2 separate regions of the Homo sapiens genome follow, and region 1 is linked to region 2. Evidence: fine-mapped expression QTL. Tissue or cell type: whole blood. Region 2 holds a variant in brackets; the other region holds the start of a gene. All regions are shown on one strand. Distances are between the middles of the regions.

Region 1 (9,299 bases), 54 kb after region 2:
GTAGCTTCTCCCAACGTGGTGATGAGGTTACTCGTGGACACGTAAGTAGACATAGTAGTTATCTCCACACCTTCCATGCTACCCTCCCTCTACGTGTAGCACCCATGAAATTTGAGTGTCAGAGAAGGGCAGGGTGGAGAGACACATCAAAGACTAAAACCAGGACTCTGATTCAAGAGCTAGGCCTGCTCTGCCTCTAGCCGCTAGATCTCCCTTTTTGTTTAAGACAGTCTGAGTTTGCTTTTTGGTTACTTACAACTGAAACCATCCAAACTGAAATATAAATTTTAATATAATCTTTTGGGGTAAATAAGAGAACAAATCAAACATAATCAGAGGACAAACTCTTCATTTATTGTCAAGGGAACTGCAGCTGGAAAGAATAAATACAGAATGGTTTTGCAGTTTAATAGTTTGGTGCTTCATCCATAGAAGGGATAAATTTCCAAACCTATGATTCTATTTGGAAAGATGGTGGCTAAGTCGGGCCCAGTAGTGATCTCAGACACCATCCTTTGTATGCAATGTGGTTGTTCATCTGGGCACCGTTTATTATCCCCAGCAGTAATGGGTTGCTCTAAGCATATGTTAAAATATAGTTAGTGAATAATGACCCCTTTTAAATTCATGTACCTACATAATGTCAATTTATTTGAATACTTGGCTTAAAAACCATTGTATTGAACTAGGCATGGGCACATTGACATGCTACTGCCTTTTATAACCCTGGTCTCTCTACAAGCTCATCCATTATCTCCTAATTAAACAACAAAGGTTCCTTGGAAAGGAACCCCAGTTAGACATCATTACCAAGCATTTTGCCATCATTTGCTAGATTAATGAGACTAATTATACAACCTGCAGCGATGAGTCAAGACCTTGGCGAAACAGGAGAGATGAGGTATCCAAATCCTTTTGTAAATCGCTTTAAATCAAAGCAGTCCATCTCCTATTGATAGACTGGATTACTTCAAGTGTTAGTATCTCTCTTCCTCTCAGTCACTGCATGCTCTGAAAGGGGAATGGATGACTCATAACTCTTGGGAATTCACTCTCTGCCTCTCTGCGACAGCATTGGATCCATTTTCAGCTTTACAGCATTGAGCATGTGGGCTGGGTGAGAACACTAGATATTATATTGGGTCTTCTGGTTTCGATTAGAAGAGGAGATAAGAAGAAAACTCAGTGAAACATGCAGCACATGATTAAGAACCATTCTTATCTAAAAGAATTGGAAAGAAGATTAACATTGGTTCAAAAGGTGGACTCTGAGGGTAAACGACCAGGGCTCCTGGCCCCCTCTCCTTCCTACTTGTGCAACCATAGGGAAATTACTGCATTTAATGTTTTTAAGCCTCATTTTCCCATTCTGTAAAGTGGGAATAATAATAGTACCTTTCATACACTGTTGTCTTGAGAACTCAGTGTGAGAAGGTGCTCAGCCCCAGTGCTTATTAATGCTCAATAAATGTTAGCATATGGTTTCACAAAAAGGATAATGACACTGTTGTTTTAAAAAAAGCTAATATAGATATGTTTATACTTACATGTATTCTTACTGCAGTCTTAGTAGCATTTCAAAGGAGGGACTTGGACGTTTGTAAGATTTTGAAGTCTGAATTAAGATAGGTCTTTCAATGTGGGTGTGTAATTAGGATTGAGTAAAGATCAAGATATAATAGTTTAGGATTGGTAGATAAAGCAATTGTACGGGTTTCCAGGTAAGAGGTTCACACAATCTTAGGATATAATCTGTCGTTTCATGTTTTCTAATGGTGAGTTGATGCGTCTTTCAAGATATTCCTGAAATGAGCAATAAGGTTATTTTCAGGTTTATTTTCCTGGGCAAGAGTTTAATAGACTAGCAAATTATGTTGAAAGAACATAGTGGAATAATAAAGTCAATAAGTTCTGTGAATTTCCATGTTCAATGTAAAATAAAATAGTGGTTAACCCGAAATTCATTTCTATATAAAACTTTTGGCAGTTAATTTTGCAGCAAATTTCTGTGTTAAATTTTATTTTATGAAAAGTGCTGCTAATAACTTTGTATGCATTTACCATCTCTTCATGGACACAAAGGAACCATTAAGGGAAAAGTTGGCCTTAGATCAAAATTTCTCTTCAAGAGAATTCATATTTGTAAAATCAAGAAGCAAGTTACCATACTAAATAATAAAGGATTCCCTGAGGGGCCAGTCTCTTCTTTACTTAGGGTGTCATTAAGGTTTAATTTGTGGTCACACTACTGAAATCTTATTTTTAGAGGAGAAAAAGAAAAACATTAAAAAGAACATGGCAAAAATTCTTCCTTCATGTCAATCAGTAGACTCCATCATATTTTCTCATCATTTAACCACCCCCATGACTACATTCCTCCTAATTCAGTTTAGGAGGATGAATATTCTACAGATCCATAGTGCAACCACTCCCATTGCCCATCCTTCAGATCTCTTGCCCCTTTCATTCTAGGTCCCACCCCCTGGCAAAACACTATCCATTGGTAAACCTGGCTGTTGCAAACCGACAGCCATTTCCACTTGTACTTGACCATGAAAAATTCTTGGTTATTTTGGAAGAGAAAACAGTAGTGTGGAAAGTTCTATGTGAGTGAGGGTTGGCTACTTTCCTGCCACCTGGTTATAATAAAACCAAGTCACAGATTCAACACCACCACGTATTTAGACATTTTTATACGTAATCGTTTATTAGCAGGCAGATGGGGAGGGTTCTGCAAGCTTCGTGGAGACTGAGCTCCCCGACCTTTTAGAGATCTGTCCACATCTTGCCAGAGACTCTCTGGGTCATACACAACATCGCAGAAAGAGGACTCTGTGACCCCAACGCCTGTCACCAGGCAACAAAAAACCGTCTGACTCATTCTAAACACAGGCCCAGATAGGGATGTAATTTGCTATTCTAAGTGTAAGTAATGTCTCTAAAATATTTTAGGCCACCCATACCGCTTTACTACCACTAATCTTTGTAATCTCAGCACTTTGGGAGGCCGAGGAGGGTAGATCACGAGGTCAGCAGTTCGAGACCAGCCTGATTAACATGGTGAAACCCCGCCTCTACTAAAAATACAAAAATTAGCTAGGCATGGTGGTGCGCGCCTGTAGTCCCAGCTACTCAGGAGGCTGAGGCAGGAGAATCGCTTGAACCCAGGAGGCAGAGGTTGCAGTGAGCCAAGATCATGCCACTGAACTCCAGCCTGGGTGACAGAGTGAGACTCCATCAAAAAAAAAAAAAAAAAAATTCCCATTTCCAACAATTGTGTTAATTAATGAGTGTCAAACTTCACAAAGAAAAATGCACTCTTAATATTTATTAAGCTACTTTTTTAAAAAGCCTGGAGTTGACCAGGGATAGAAGGAATCAAATTCCTTGTTGTAAATGCCTATGGAGGATGGACTTTCTGACACCCTGAGAGTGAATTTCTAAGACAGCAACTGAAGGCCCCATGAGCAGACTTCAACTTTCTAATCTGGAGGGAAGTTTTAAATGATGTTCAGGATACAAAAGGCTAAAGATGTGTGACACATAGTACATGCAAGTGGAATTTGTTTCCCTTGTTTAAAACTAATCATATCTTTTTTTTTTTTGAGATGGAGTCTCGCTCTGTTGCCCAAGCTGGAGTGCAGTGGCATGATCTCAACTCACTGCAACCTCCGCCTCCTGGGTTCAAGCGATTCTCCTGCCTCAGCCCCCCGAGTAGCTGGGATTACAGGCGCCCACCACCATGCCCAGCTAATTTTTGTATTTTTAGTAGAGGCGGGGTTTCGCCATGCTAGCCAGGCTGGTCTCAAACTCCTGACTTGAGGTGTTCCGCCCGCCTTGGCCTCCCAAAGTGCTGGGATTACAGATATGAGCCACTGCCCCCGGCCTAATCATATCTTTTTAAGCAATCAATTGTTTCCTAGAGAAAAATATAACTAACTTACCTTTTGAAATTAAGCTCTTCCCTTTTGCTTCAGGAAAAACTCACTCAAACCAGGCTTCTCCTCTGTTCTCACACTAGAACAATAAACACAGAAGACTTCTGTGACCAAAGGTGTGGGAGTTTCTTCTCACCACCAAGCAGTGGACACCAGCTGGGTGTCCTCCAACTGAATTCCAACTCTATCTACCTGGAGATAGTGACCAATCCCATTGGTTGTAGGCTCAGTCCCCAACCCCCTCCTTCCTCCTAGTTGCAAGTCCAAGCCTCCTGAACTCTGACCAACTGGCATCAAGTCAGGGTTTCCACGACTCTCCCTGGGTTTGATTAATTTGCAAGAGCAGCCCACAGGACTCAGGGAAACACATTTACTGGTTTATTCTAAAGAATGTTGCAAAGGACACAGATGAAGAGATGCATATGGTGAGATACATGGGATGGGGTACAGAGCTATCATGTCCTGGGCATGACACCCTCCAGGGCCCTCCACGTGTTCCACTAACTGCAAGCCCTCTGAATTCTGTCCTTTTTAGTTTTTACGAAGCCGTGACTGATTAAACCATTGGTCATTGGTGATCAACTTGACCTTCTTTAATGTGACACATGTGCTGCCTAAAAATTCAATTCTGAGTCAAACTTGAGGTACACACAGATGTCATTGTCAACTGAAGGGCTACAACTTTTTCCCTTGCTCTTGGTGTTTATTAAATAACAGAAAATTTGTTCCTATGTGCGGGAAGTTGCAACTGCAGTGAAGTGTTCATGGTTTCCCTGAGGCTGACAGAGCACTCTCTTACCCAGAAACCCAGGACTCGCCTCCAGAGTGATATGTGAGTCCCATCTAGAGAGTCTGGGGTTGCATGGGGTGCAGGATTCTTCCTCTTCTCTCCAGACTCTGTTCTCAGACTGAGTCAAAGATTCAACGAAACGCTCCCTCGCCTGGTCATGCACTTGTGTTTAAAGAGAGGGTAGGTATGGTTCAGTTTCATTCTACAGTGCTGCCAGGTTCTGCTCAATAAGAATTGAGACTTACTGATGGCCCCAGGCCCAAGCAACAATGGAAACATCTCAAGGATTTCTTTTGCCTCATGGTTTTTTCCAAAACTTTAGTTTTCTTTTAAATCCAAAAACTCTTGACATTTTTGGTGAAAACATTTTCTCCAGGGCTGTGCAGAGGCTTATTCAACTGGTTGATGTTATGAAAAACATCTGCCAATGTGACTAGTGTTAATAAGCCATTCTCCATCTTCAAAGCACTCCAAAAACCTGGTTTTGTGTCATCTTGAAAGTATCCCTCAAGCACAGTCATGACATTTCTGTTTGGAGGAGAAGATGATGTCTCTTTATCTGACTTTTCACAAAATTTTAAAAATCTCAGTTGAACTTATCCCTGTTTGACTGTATTTGCAGGAGCATTCAAACCTTTTGTTACTTTCTTTTCTTTATTTTTTTTTTTTGAGACAGAGTCTCACTCTGTTGTCCAGGCTGGAGTGCAGTGGCGAAATCTCAACTCACCCCAACCTCCGCCTCCTTGGTTCAAGTGATTCTAGTGCCTCAGCCTCCCAAGTACCTGGGACTATAGGTGCCCGCCACCACACCTGTCTAATTTTTGTATTTTTAGTAGAGATGGGGTTTAAAAAATTCTGAGCAAACTATTGCAAGGACAGAAAACCAAACACTGCATGTTCTCACTCATAGGTGGGAATTGAACAAAGAGAACACCTGGACACAGGAAGGGGAACATCACACACCGGGGCCTGTCGCAGCGTGAGGGAGGGGGAAGGGATAACATTAGAAGATATATCTAATGTAAATGACGAGTTAATGGGTGCAGCACACCAACATGGCACATGTATACATATGTAACAAACCTGCACATTGTGCACATGTACCCTAGAACTTAAAGTATAATTTAAAAAAAAAAGAGAGATGGGGTTTCACCCTATTGGCCAGGCTGGTCTTGAACTCCTTACCTCAAGTGATCCGCCCACCTTGACCTCCCAAAGTGCAGAGATTACAGGTGTGAGCCACTCTGCCTGGTCATTCCAAGAGTTTTTGACCCCAAGCACTACTGCATGAACAAATCAGTGTGTTGTGACAATGCCAGGTTTTTTTCTTATTCTACAAAAAATGTGAAGCCTCTTATCAAGCCAACCCTGGATGAGGTGTTACCGGTACAGATGCTAACACAATGCCCCCAAGACAGATGCCTTGTTTAAAGATACGTAGACAAAATTTAAAGTAGATCTTGGCCTTTGCTTGGTTTGAGCAGCTCTTCATAGCTGAAAATATTGCTTGAATTTCATTACTATTTACCAACCTTACTTACAAATGACATGACTGGTGTCAAGTTAGATGCTGCTGCTGCTTTTATCAGTTTATTATTCAGAACTTTTCAGGGTCAAGAGGCTTTTCAGCAATATCTCAATTTGTCTTACCATTTGAGAGTGGATTATTTTTTTCCAGTTTCTTGTACTAAAAATGGGACTAGGATTTAACTCAGTATAATTTTACATCCTAGGGATTATTAAGTTTTCACAAAAAGTGTGGCCTTTCCTTTTATGGGCAATAAGTTCTGCTAGTACGTAAGTCGAATTCTGAGTCATTTCTCAGAAAGTGACTCTTTTTAGCAAATGCTTTACACTGTTTTGAGATTCCAATGGCGATGTCAAATAATCAGCATCTTTACTTCTGAGATGTGAGGTAAAGGGTCTTTTCCATTCTGCTGGAGCCATCACTGTGGTCACAAGTTGTTTGCCAGGAAAGACACAAAATCTGGCAAGACACAAATGCCCCGTGAAATTCATTGATAAGCAGTTTCCGTTGTAAATATGAACATACAAATTTATTACATACCCTTTATTGCACTTATACAATGAAATGACTAAGAAGATTGTAGTTCTTCATCACTTTATCAGCACAATCTGTAGGTCTAGACTTAAATTATCCTCTTCTTTCTCACATCTCGTTTTCAGAAATCACCACATGGACTCTCCAACATGATTGGCAATATAAATGCTAATAAATGATAACACAGAGGGCATAATAAATACTTGAACAGAAATTGCAAAAAAAAAAAAAAAAGAAAATGTCACAATAAAATTCTCTTCTAACCTATATAAACCTTGCCTTGCAATGCTTACCACAGCAAAATGCCAGAGCAGAAGCTGAGTTGCAACACACACAAAAATTCCTTCCTTAGAATGGAAATGTCCCTGCAATTTACTATTAGGTTGGGTGCAACTTGCTTGCTCCCTTGTATCTGTCAGGAGTGCAGAAGGTTGGTCAGGGGAGGTGATCTTGGGAGGGAGAGACTGGTATCTTCAGACTAGAGTCTTTCCATGGGCACTATAGCATCCACCGATTATCAACAGCCTTCCCCAATTTGCACAGAAAATTGAGAATGGACTCCTGCAAATAAACACAGTCCTGTTCACAGCAACACAACAAGGATTAAGGATCCCTAACAAAATCCCAACAGGGCTGCTACATCACCAGCATTGTGCAGTATGTGAAGTTCAAAAACTGGGGTTTATCCGTAATGTGATACCAACTTACTCCTGCAAGAATGGCCATAATCAAAAAATCAAAAAACAGTAGATGTTGGCGTGGATGCAGTGATCAGGGAACACTTCTAATTGCTGGTGGGAATGTAAACTAGTATGGCCACTATAGAAAACACTGTGGAGATTCCTTAAAGAACTAAAATGGAACTACCATTTGATCCAGCAATCGCATTACTGGGCATCTACCCAGAGGAAAAGAAGTCATTATAAGAAAAAGATACTTGCAGATTCATACGAAAAGTCATTATACGAGAAAGATACTTGCAGATTTATAGCAGCACAATTCACAATCACAAAATTGTGGAACCAACCCAAATGCCTATTAATCAACAAGTGGATAAAGAAACTGTGGTAGAAATATACAATGGAATACTTCTCAGCCATAAAAAGGAATGAATGAACGGCATTTGCAGTGACCCAGATGAGATTGGAGACTATTATTCTAAGTGAAGTAACTCAGGAATGGAAAAGCAAACATTGTATGTTCTCACTGATATGTGGTAGCTAAGCTGTGAGGACACAAAGGCATAAGGATGATACAATGGACTTTGGAGACTTGGGGGAAAGGGTGGGAGGGGTCAAGGGATAAAAGACTGCAAATAGGGTGCAGTGTATACTGCTCGGGTGATGGGTGCATCAAAATCTCACAAATCACCACTAAAGAACTGTAACCAAACATCACCTGTACCCCCAGTAACCTACTGCAAAAAAAATTTTTTTAATTAGGGTTTACTTTTTCATTCACACTCCCTTGCAGAATCACCAGTGACATCTCACAAGATGCCATTAGAGAAACTGTGTCCTAGAGCGTAGCTTAAATGAGCATGCACATTTATGTCTGACTATTTCTGCTAAAGAGTTCTTAAAGAACAGATGTCAGCCTGCTGATGCTCCACTCTCTCATTGCCCTATGCATTTGAGTGTTTCAGAAGAAATTCATATGACCCCGCTGGGGCAGAGATTCGTCTGATGCCATGAAACTTCGAGTAGACACGAAGGAAAGGCAAGAAATTAAACACAGGAGAACTTGGTTCAGTATCTGGGGCCAGCAAGGAATTATGCACTTAGAACCCAGATGATAGGTCTCAGTGAGGCAGGTTATCTCCACCTCTCCCTATCCCCACCCATCAAGCCCAAAGAAGGTGGATTAGTCTGTTTTCATGCTGCTGATAAAGACATACCCAAGACTGGCTGATGTATAAAGAAAAAGAGGTTTAATGGACTCACAGTTCTGTGTGGCTGGGGAGGCCTCACAATCATGGTGGAAGGCAAAAGGCACATCTTATATGGCGGCAGGCAAGAGAGAATGAGAGAGCCAAGTGAAAGGGGAAACCTCTTATAAAATCATCAGATCTGGTGAGATTTATTCACTACCACAAGAACAGTATGGGGGAAACTGCCTCCATGATTCAATTATCTCCCACTGGGTCCCTCCCACAGCACGCGGGAATTATGGGAGCTTCAATACAAGATTTGGGTGGGGACACAGCAGAACCATTTCAGAAGACATAAAGGCTTCTCTCACCTGGAGGATCCTTCACACTAAAGGTTCCTGGAACAGGCACCACCGAATCCTGGATTCATCTATAGCAGGAACAGGTAAGGGATCAGAGAACAATGATCCCTTACCCCATTACAAAATGTTCATATTTTAAATGTCTCCTTTACTTTCTTGCTAAGTACATGGTAAAACCTAGTGAAAGCAACATTAGGCAAGCCCAAGTCCTTATTTTTGTCGATTTTTTCACCCAGACCAATATTTGGGGTCTGCTCTAGTTCACAGATTGGTCTCA
Region 2 (9,299 bases):
CTCTGATGGAAGTTTCTTTTGCTGTGCAGAAGCTCTTTAGTTGAATTAGATCCCATTTGTCAATTTTGGCTTTTGTTGCCATTGCTTTTGGTGTTTTAGTCATGAAGTCCTTGCCCATGCCTATGTCCTGAATGGTATTGCCTAGGTTTTCTTCTAGGGTTTTTATGGTTTTAGGTCTAACGTTTAAGTCTGTAATCCATCTCGAATTAATTTTTGTATAAGGTGTAAGGAAGGGATCCAGTTTCAGCTTTCTGCATATGGCTAGCCAGTTTTCCCAGCACCCATAAAAGAATTTTAAAACAGAACTGTAGGACAAAATGTTAATCAGTGGGAGGTACTTGTGTTATCTGGAACAACATCTCAAATTTCTACTGCTTCAGTGTCTTTAAATACTACCACTGGCTTACCTAGTATCTGTGGTGTTTTAGCACTTTTTGTCTCAAGCTCCTTACGATAGATTTTTAAAATGAGTTTGTTTCTTGAACAATGAGAACACATGGACACAAGGAGGAGAACATCACACACTGAGGCCTGTCAGGGGTTGGGGGGCAAGGGGAGGGAGAGCATTAGGACAAATACCTAATGCATGCGGGGCTTAAAACCTACGTGATGGGTTGATGGGTGCAGCAAACCACCATGGCACAAGTTTACCTATGTAACCTGCACGTTCTGCAGGTGTACCCCAGAATTTAAAATCAAATAAAATTAAAATAAGTAAAATAAAATAAAAAAAGAGTGTGTTTCTGTCCATAAAATCGTTTCCTTTTATCCAGTCTCTTCTTTTTTTCCTTACTGTGAGACTTGATTCTCTGAGATGGCGGACCTTTCAGAGCACCACTTCGGAAACTGGCCTCGCTCTTTAAGAAGTCAAATAACCTACATGAAGTGGCTCGAACGGAATTGAGAATTAAAAAGCAGAATGGTTTACCATAAACTAAGAGGCACAGATTAATTCATAAAGCTGAAAATATTCTTAGACAGACTGTTAACTGCCATATAAGAAGGATGTTGTTAATTTAATGTAACAAAAGGGTGCCATAGAAAGGATGCATTTTATAAATCAGGTCACCCCTACAGGGTGGTCACACCTACACGTCATTTTAGGAAAAGAACAGTCAGGCCATGACTCACCCAGGAAGACGGTCAGCGTGATGGTGAAGAGGGACGGTAAGAAGAACCCCTATCCAGGAGTGGGGAATAAAACAACTAGGATGATTTGGAAATGGAGAAAACTCCATGGAGGCTGCTCCAGGAGACCTCAGCTGTCTGAAGGCCAGGCACACTAAAGGAATGCACAGCTTTTTCTGTGAGGCTCCAGAAGTCAGAGGCGGAACCCATGCATGGATTCATCAAGAGGCTAGAAATCAGCTCTCTAAACAGAACAATTCACTTGTTTTTGGAACAAGCCTTTAAATGGAACAAGCCTCAGGTATGTTGTCATCTAAGTTCTGATTCTACCTCGACCACACATACCATTTGCCTCAATATGTCAACCAAGCAAGGTAAGAATTATACGTATTTCAAGACAAAAATCTTGATAAAGTCACCATTTGTTTCAGAAATATGTTTTTGTTTCTATTGAAATACAATTCAGTACAATTCAATTCAATTTAGAACAATTCTCTAAAATGCACTTGTTTCTAAATATTGAGATTTCTTAAAAGGTAATGATGTGTCTTGCACAGGTTTCCATGCTAAGCAGCCATCCAGCTTGGGTGTTCTACAGAGAGTTTCTATGTGAGGTTGTGGGTTCCAGGAGTTGCCCTGTTATCTCTCTAAGGTCCTCGTCAACTCTAAAACTCAAGGATTATGTGATGTTGCTGGGACAATTTCTACACTGAGAGGGAGTTTAAACTATATACCAGATGAATCTTGATTCCCTCCATCCCCTAAATTCTTTGTTGTTGTTGTTGGACAGTACACCAGGAATCATACATCAGAGTTTCACCTTTTTTTTAAGTCCCATAGACACATCTCTTAATCAAGAGATGTGGTCTATACAGAATGATCCATTTTGTAGTAAGAATAAGTCCACAAACCAATGAGTAGACTTGCCCCCAAGAGCCTACTAGTAAAAACTATAAAGCATATTGCTGCAGTTTTGCGCTAATAAGCATTGCAAAGCACTGAGATTTTCTAATTTTCTAGTTCCTGTTTTTTATGACGACATCTGTGGACCTAAACTTGGCACTCAGCATAGCACATCTGTGCCAGAAATTGCAAAGGTAGACAAGAGCAGAAAAGGAAGTGGATGTTGTTCAGGAATAACGAATAGAAAAAAAGAAGGGAGATGGGGTTTTTGTTTGTTTCTGTTTTGTTTTTATAATTCACTTTTTACAGACAGAAACAAAACAGAAAATACCCACCATAAGATCCTGTGGCTTGAAGAATTGTTTACTCTGTAATCTTTTTTAGATAGATCCAAGATCAGTGAAATGATCCAGTGGATTCTGAGCTGGTACAGGCAGCTGTGAGCTCTCCATGAGGATCCGCTTCCATATTGAAGTGACTGCTTTGGTGGATCGAGCTGCATTTTCAAGATCATTATTGTTTCCAAACAAATAACCCTTTAAAACTTTTATTATATTTCTCTTCCAAAAATTGGTAAAATTTCCTTCTAAATGTTTACAGTTTTTGCTTTTTTGTTATTTCATGTTCAACTCACTTCGAAAGGCAGAAAACCCCAATCCTACCATACCTCTAATAATTCTATGCTGTTTTTCCTTCTGAAATGGACAATAATTATTGGCTGTTTCCTGACACCTAAGCTAAGATAATCATGAATGTCAATGGTACTCACAGAAGAAAAGGGAGTTTGAAGTACCTGTATTCTCTCGGAGAGTCTGATGTTTTTGGAACAAGCCTTTAAATGGTGCAAGCCTCGGGAATGTTTTTTACGTTGTGATTGTACGTCAACCACACATATCATTTTGCCTCCATAGGGCTTATTAAGTCAACCAAGCAAGGTGAGAATTGTACGTATCTCAAGAAAAAAATCTTCATAAAGCCACCGTTTATTTCGGAAATATGTTTTTATTTCCATTGACATATTTAGAGAGAGAACAAATATTGAGTATGAAATAATTCTGTTCACTAAAAGAGATGGCTTCCCATTGCATTGTTGCAGGTAGTTTTCATTGAACCACTAGTTGCTAAAACTAATGACTACCTTTGACCTCCCTCGGAAATAATAACTGATGATACCATCCAATTATAGTTTCCAGAATAGTTCTCTTCTCTTCTTTAGAACAGAAGGCAGCAGCAGTAAAATGCAATTAGCAAGAACTGCAGGGAAAGCATATTTTCTAGACTGGGTGACAATGTTGAGTTTGACTCAGTAAAAAAAAAAAAAAAAAAAAAAAAAAGGTGGTTTTATTTTCTCCCTTTGATGGAAATTTTGACTGCTAATGTCTCTATATATTTGAAGTGTTTTGATATTGTATAAGAAACACTGCCCCAGGGGTAATGGTAACTGAATATTGAAGGAGGAGAACCGAGGTAGTTGGTGGTAACCAAAGCCAGGGAGGGATGGACTGTTTCCCAGACTCCGACAATGTCAACTGTCTTTACTCTTCCAGTGAACTGGGAATTAGAAGAAAACACAAAGCAGGAATAGGCACGTACAGAGATGTTTAAGATGACAAAAATGATTTTAAAAAGAAAAAATAATCTTCTGGAAGTTTCAGTAGAAAGCTGGCATAGGCTCCCAAAGTGATGACATGATCGTGTCCAGCATTCCTTCCTGGCTTCTAGCCCTAGAAAAACACTCGCAGGCCAGGGGTGGTGGCTCATGCCTGTAATCCTAGCACTTTGGGAGGCCAAGGTGGGTGGATTACTTGAGGCCAGGAGTTTGAGACCAGCCTGGCCAACATGGCAAAACCCCTTCTCTACTAAAAATACAAAAATTAGCTGGGCATTGTGGCGCATGCCTATAATCCAATCCCAGCTACTCCAGGGACTGAGGCACGAGAATAGCTTGATATCTGGGAGGCAGAAGTTGCAGTGAGCCGAAATCATATCACTGCACTCCAGACAGCAGAGTGATACTCGGTCTCAAAAAAAAAAAAAAAAAAACACTCATTTTTTCACGCATTCAATAGACATTTTCAAGCGTGTTATGTATCTGCAGGGATGTGAGCTCAAGGGGTTCAAAATCCAGTGCAAGGTGAGGAGAGGGAGGGGAGACATGGTCCAGAAAATAGTTACAGAGAGGATGCTTCCAGGATTGGCAGAATCAGTCTCAGTTACCAGTTTGTGAGCATGCATGAAAAATGGGAAAAATAGAAGAAAAAAGCATAAAGAAGAGAGGACACAGTCAGGTTTTTAGGGGCTGAAGCCAAAAGAACTCTGAATCTGGTGCAAGATGCCC[C/A]CAAATCCAGAGAAAATGTAAGGGAGTATCCGTCTCATTTCAGCACCATGCCTGGAAGGAAGTCCAGGAACAGGTCACGGAGGGATTTGAGATTCCCAGCAGACTTGGCAGCGATCTGACATCCGCTTTTTTGACCCTGGGAATTGAATGTCTCATGTGTTTGTGCAAAGCTGACCTGATCGTATTTGAATTCTTCTTCTCTGACTCCCTATTGTGCATTTCCTCTGTATTTCCAATATGCATGGGTTAGCCTTTCCTTAAAATAGTGGAGAGAGGTCACTTACATATTTTATACACACGCAAAATGAGGTGCCAAAATCTTGGTTTAGTCCCCTGAGAGTGGCCAAGGGCTCTGAAGATCTAAGTTCTGAAAGCTGTTCCTCCTTCAGCCATCTCGAGTGTCTTCAGGGATATGATATCACACATATCACACATATCATTTTCAGAGAACAGATAATAACATTGGCAGAAAATCATTAACTCAATAGATTCCATCCTAAAGGGGGAAACCATGGTTTATAATTCATCTGATATCACTCAGAATTTTCTATAACAAACTGGATTTTCGTTAAATGAAGAGAGATCGTAGGTAAGTACCTCAACAGGGAATGGGTTGCACCTGCTTTACTTAAAACTCTCATTCCTCAGTGCTCTGTAAAAGAACTGCAAGCATCCATCTGTACTGTGATCGACAATGTCTTTAACTTCTTTGGCACAAGTACTCTGGTGGCCCTTTGGGTTCCATGTTAGGCCCCGTCACACTTTCCGAAACTTGCAACTTGAGCTTACTGTTGAATAAAAAGCGTTGGCCAAGCAAAGTTAAATTGTCTACCCTCCCAGTTAAATTTTAGGCCTAGAAACCCCTTCCCATTTTAGACTGAGATTGTGAAGACTTATTTTCTGTCCATTCATGAGAGGAACTAAATTTGCTGTACTTTCACAAGTAAAAATTAAGAGCTTCTTCGAGTATCTGGCAGAAAAGCTAATTAGGCCAACTAATCTTCATGGCAGTAAGTGTCTTTCATATAACCTTGCCTCTGCTTTCTCCAACCAGTTGCTGTTGGTTCTGCCTGCAGATTTCTGGGCCAACCCCAAAAGGGGCAAGAAGCAGAACAGAATCCTCATTCTTGCTGCTAACAGATTTAGTAACTAGGGATTCAGGGGAAGCTCAGAGTGCCCACTTAATGTACCTCCTGCCCCACTATCTTAATCCAGTACATAGGATTGAGTTTCTGCCTCAGTTTCCCTAACAAGCAATCCAATGCATGCTCAGGGTCTAAGCAGTGCTCTAAGTGCCAGCCCTCTTGGTTCAAACATTCCAACCTCTTGCCTTACCCACTGGTTATAATACTACTGTGATGTCACTGCCCTGGGAATCTTCCACTTTTCAGGCAAGGCTTGTCTGATACAAACACTTGCACAAAACAGGCCAGAGCTAAGGACATATTTTATCCACCATGCCTTAAAGAGCTTTTTAAACAAAGAGCTAGGTCCATTTCCCAGTAACTGTCCTGTCTGGCCTCAGTGTCCCTCCTTCCTGTTCTGTTTACCTAAAAAGCAAAGTGATCTGTTTATCCCCAGCCAGAGCACCCACAAAGTACAGGCACATGTAGCTGAGGCATCCCAGCAGGATGCAGCTTCCACTGCCTCTAAGATAAGTGCCAGAGAAGGGCGAGAGAACACTATCAACCCAGAAGACGGTGCCCCAAAACTTCATTATACTTCATTTCCTCTGTATCCAGACTTCCTTCCCATCTACTTGCAGTATATTATCACTGTCCCTTGACATTGACAAGTGACACAGCTTTGCTTTTTCAGAAAGAGAATAATTAATAAATGCCCTTAACCCTATCACCATAACCACTTTTTAAATATATGAGAACAAAGGCATCATCGCCCTCATAAATCTCTTTCATTCCAAATAGTACCATGACCCTGTTTATCACATGAAAGCTAGATATGAAGCCAGGAATTCTCTTCACTTCGATTATTTGTTCATTATTAATGGCATAGAAGTACCATTGATTTTGTATATCGTGCTTGTATCCTGCAACTTTGCTGAACTCACTTCATTCTTTTTCAATTCTAATATCTCCATTTGGTTCTCCTTTGTATTTCTATTCATTTGCTGAGACTTTCTATTTTTCTCATTCACAGATTTTATTGTGTTCTCACCACACAGAGAATATTGTAACTATGTGACCTGATGTATATGTTAATTAGCTTGATTGTGGTAATTATTTTATAACGTACACATATATCAAAACATCCTATTATAAACCCTCAATCGATGCCATTTGTATTTGTTGAGTATACCTCAATAGGGCTGGAAAAAAATTCTCACAAAACAAGAGTGGCAAACAATTTATCTCAAGAAATTTCAAAAAGGAATCATAGCAGCTACCATTTATGGGGCATTTCACCTATGTTGGAAATATGTGCCTCCTACACGTTATTTCATGTAATTCTTGCAATAATTATGGGATATAGGCAAATATTATCATCCCGTTCCAGAGGCTCAGAGAGGCTAAGTGGTTTGTCCAAGGTTACCCAGTCAGTATGAACCTGAGCCCAACTTGACTCCAAATTTGTTTGACTTTCAATCTAATCTCTTAAATCCTATGTGCATTGTTTTCCATAAACTCCCTCTGGCAGCAAAATAGGTATTGGGAGTTCTTTCCAATATTAAAATAACAATAAACTGTTCCATAATGAGAACATTTAACTATTTTCTTTAAGTGCTTGTCCACTTTACCATATAATGGACTATTTGCGGATGACTTGAATTACAAATAGGGAGACATCTTGAGTTAATTTCTGCTTCCCTCTTGTGTCAGAGACCGGTAATGACAATCGCAAGGGCTGTATACATTGACTTCTGCCTCATTTATCTCTCCCTTTTATTTGTCTTGTAAATGATTCCATTTCTTCTCTGTCTGAATGACTGAAAAGGCTGAATTTGAAAATTTGATCTGTTAGCAAAATATATCCCAGCTCCCTTGAAACTCTCAGTAAAATGTATCTATTTCCTTAAAAGCAACAATTTCAGTGTGTGATAGAAAGAGATTAAATCAATACAACACAACACAATAAACCTTCTTTGTCTCATGTCTTCTATAAAACCCGCCTCAAAACAATTTTCAATCTTAAGTAATACCATTACCAAGTTATAGGCAGCTCCCTGAGGAAACCTGAAGGAATGCTGAGCCGTAATGGGCTTCGGGGCTATTTCAGAGCATTAGTCTCTGGTTTATAAAATACAGGGGAATCTTTGCTTTTCACATAATGTCTCCAAAAATTCATGCTATTTATTGCACCATTAAATGCTTTAGAAGGACTTTCTATGTAAAGAAAACCTTTGGTGGATCATTTTCTAAAACAAATGAAGACTCCTCAATTTTAACTGCTTTACAAATTCACTTCTTATGTGGATCAGATTTACTTTGGGACGATCTAGAATTTTTATTTAAAGGGGCCTGTGGGTAGATTTGGCCACTGTTTTTTCTTAGATGGTGCATTTCTCCAGGGTGGTTTCAGGGGGTGGCTGTGGATGCTGTTGATTAAGATGCTCAAGGTTCGCCCATTACCAGTCATCCCCCTTGGCACTACCACTAGGATTACCCTTAAATATCTCTTATTTCTTCTACACAAATAGATAAGACTGTAGTAAAGTCCAGATGCCCACCTTTACATGTCCAATTTTTTCTTTTCTCTGGCTTATTGTGAATAATGTGTCACCCAAGCCAATACCAGCACCTTTCTGAAGATTACTATATCTGAAATGTGCAGAGCTGGCTTTGTTACTTAAGGATGCTGAAGCAAACTATATCATAACACAGAAAATAACTATAAGCCGCATGTTCCTCATAGCCATGCCTTGCTCCCTGAAGAAGCAAGTGCTGGGAAGTATGCCAGAAGGAAGAATAAAGGATACTTTGGGCACAGTGTGGTGCAACTGTCCTTTCCTCTTCTCGATTAGGGAAACTTGGTAAGTGATTGGAGTGGCAACACCCCAGCAGAACGAGACGTTTACAGAGAGAATCCACTAGTGTCTATACTATACTATGTAACACGGTATTCACTATACACACGGGCTTCTTAATTTTCAACTCATTAAAATTAAGTAAAACTAAAAATTCAGTTGCTCAGTTACATTAGCCAAAGGTGCCCATGGCTACTACGGTGGGTAACATGATATAAAACATTTCTATCATCACGGAAAGTTCTAAAGTGCTGATCTGGACAACTTCGTTTCACAGGAAGTTTATTGGCTCTGACAAGTTCATAATAAATGGCCCAAAGAATCAAGATTGAGAATCCTCAGATAGCTTTCCCTTTATAACTACAAGGGGTTAAGTCTGACATAGGTAACCAAAGAATCGAAAAAAGCAGGATTTACAAATTGCACAGGGCCAGGAGGGGGAGCTATGATCCTCTGACATTGAGTCTGACTCTTCCCCGCTACTGGAAATTGGATATTGCACAGCTGTGGCTGGATTAAGGCATCAAAATAATACAAGTCTAGTTTTGCTATAACTGTAGAATAGTTATAGCAAAATAAAAAAAACTTTTGTGACACTCTTAATTTTCGACATTTTAGAAGAAAAAAACTGATAGATTTTTTTATAGCAAATAAGCATCAGGTCATTACACAAAGTATATACAAAATAGCACTACATAATTTTCAAGGCAATGTACATATCTAAATACATTTATGGGATTCATTTGGAATGCACTGTCAATACACACAGTGACTTAGAGCTGTGATATGAGTGAACACCGATGACTTTTCCATCTCAGACTCCTGAAATGCAGTGGAAGAGGGGATGTCCAGTTACATGTTGATGAATAAAAATAGCAAAGGAAATATATAAGTAGAAAGCCCATAATAAGACAGAGTCTCCCAGTCATCCACACGACCACAACAGTC

Evidence for each region. PIP is the estimated chance that this variant, and not a neighbour inherited with it, causes the effect. A credible set is the group of variants that fine-mapping cannot tell apart.
Region 1: LINC02648 starts here. The variant in region 2 is the best candidate, but not a certain one, in a credible set for the expression of LINC02648 in whole blood (INTERVAL, PIP 0.89).

The regions. Positions count from the first base shown.
Region 1 is chr10:6,613,422-6,622,720 of GRCh38, reverse strand. It overlaps LINC02648 (long intergenic non-protein coding RNA 2648), which reads right to left and starts at 4,005. Exons shown (of 6, transcript NR_120634.1): 1 at 3,945-4,005; 2 at 1,548-1,803; 3 at 859-1,011.
Region 2 is chr10:6,667,362-6,676,660 of GRCh38, reverse strand. No RefSeq gene overlaps it. Among named protein-coding and RNA genes, the nearest start is that of LINC02648, 53 kb to the right of the region's middle. The variant C/A (reference allele first, on the strand shown) is at 4,370.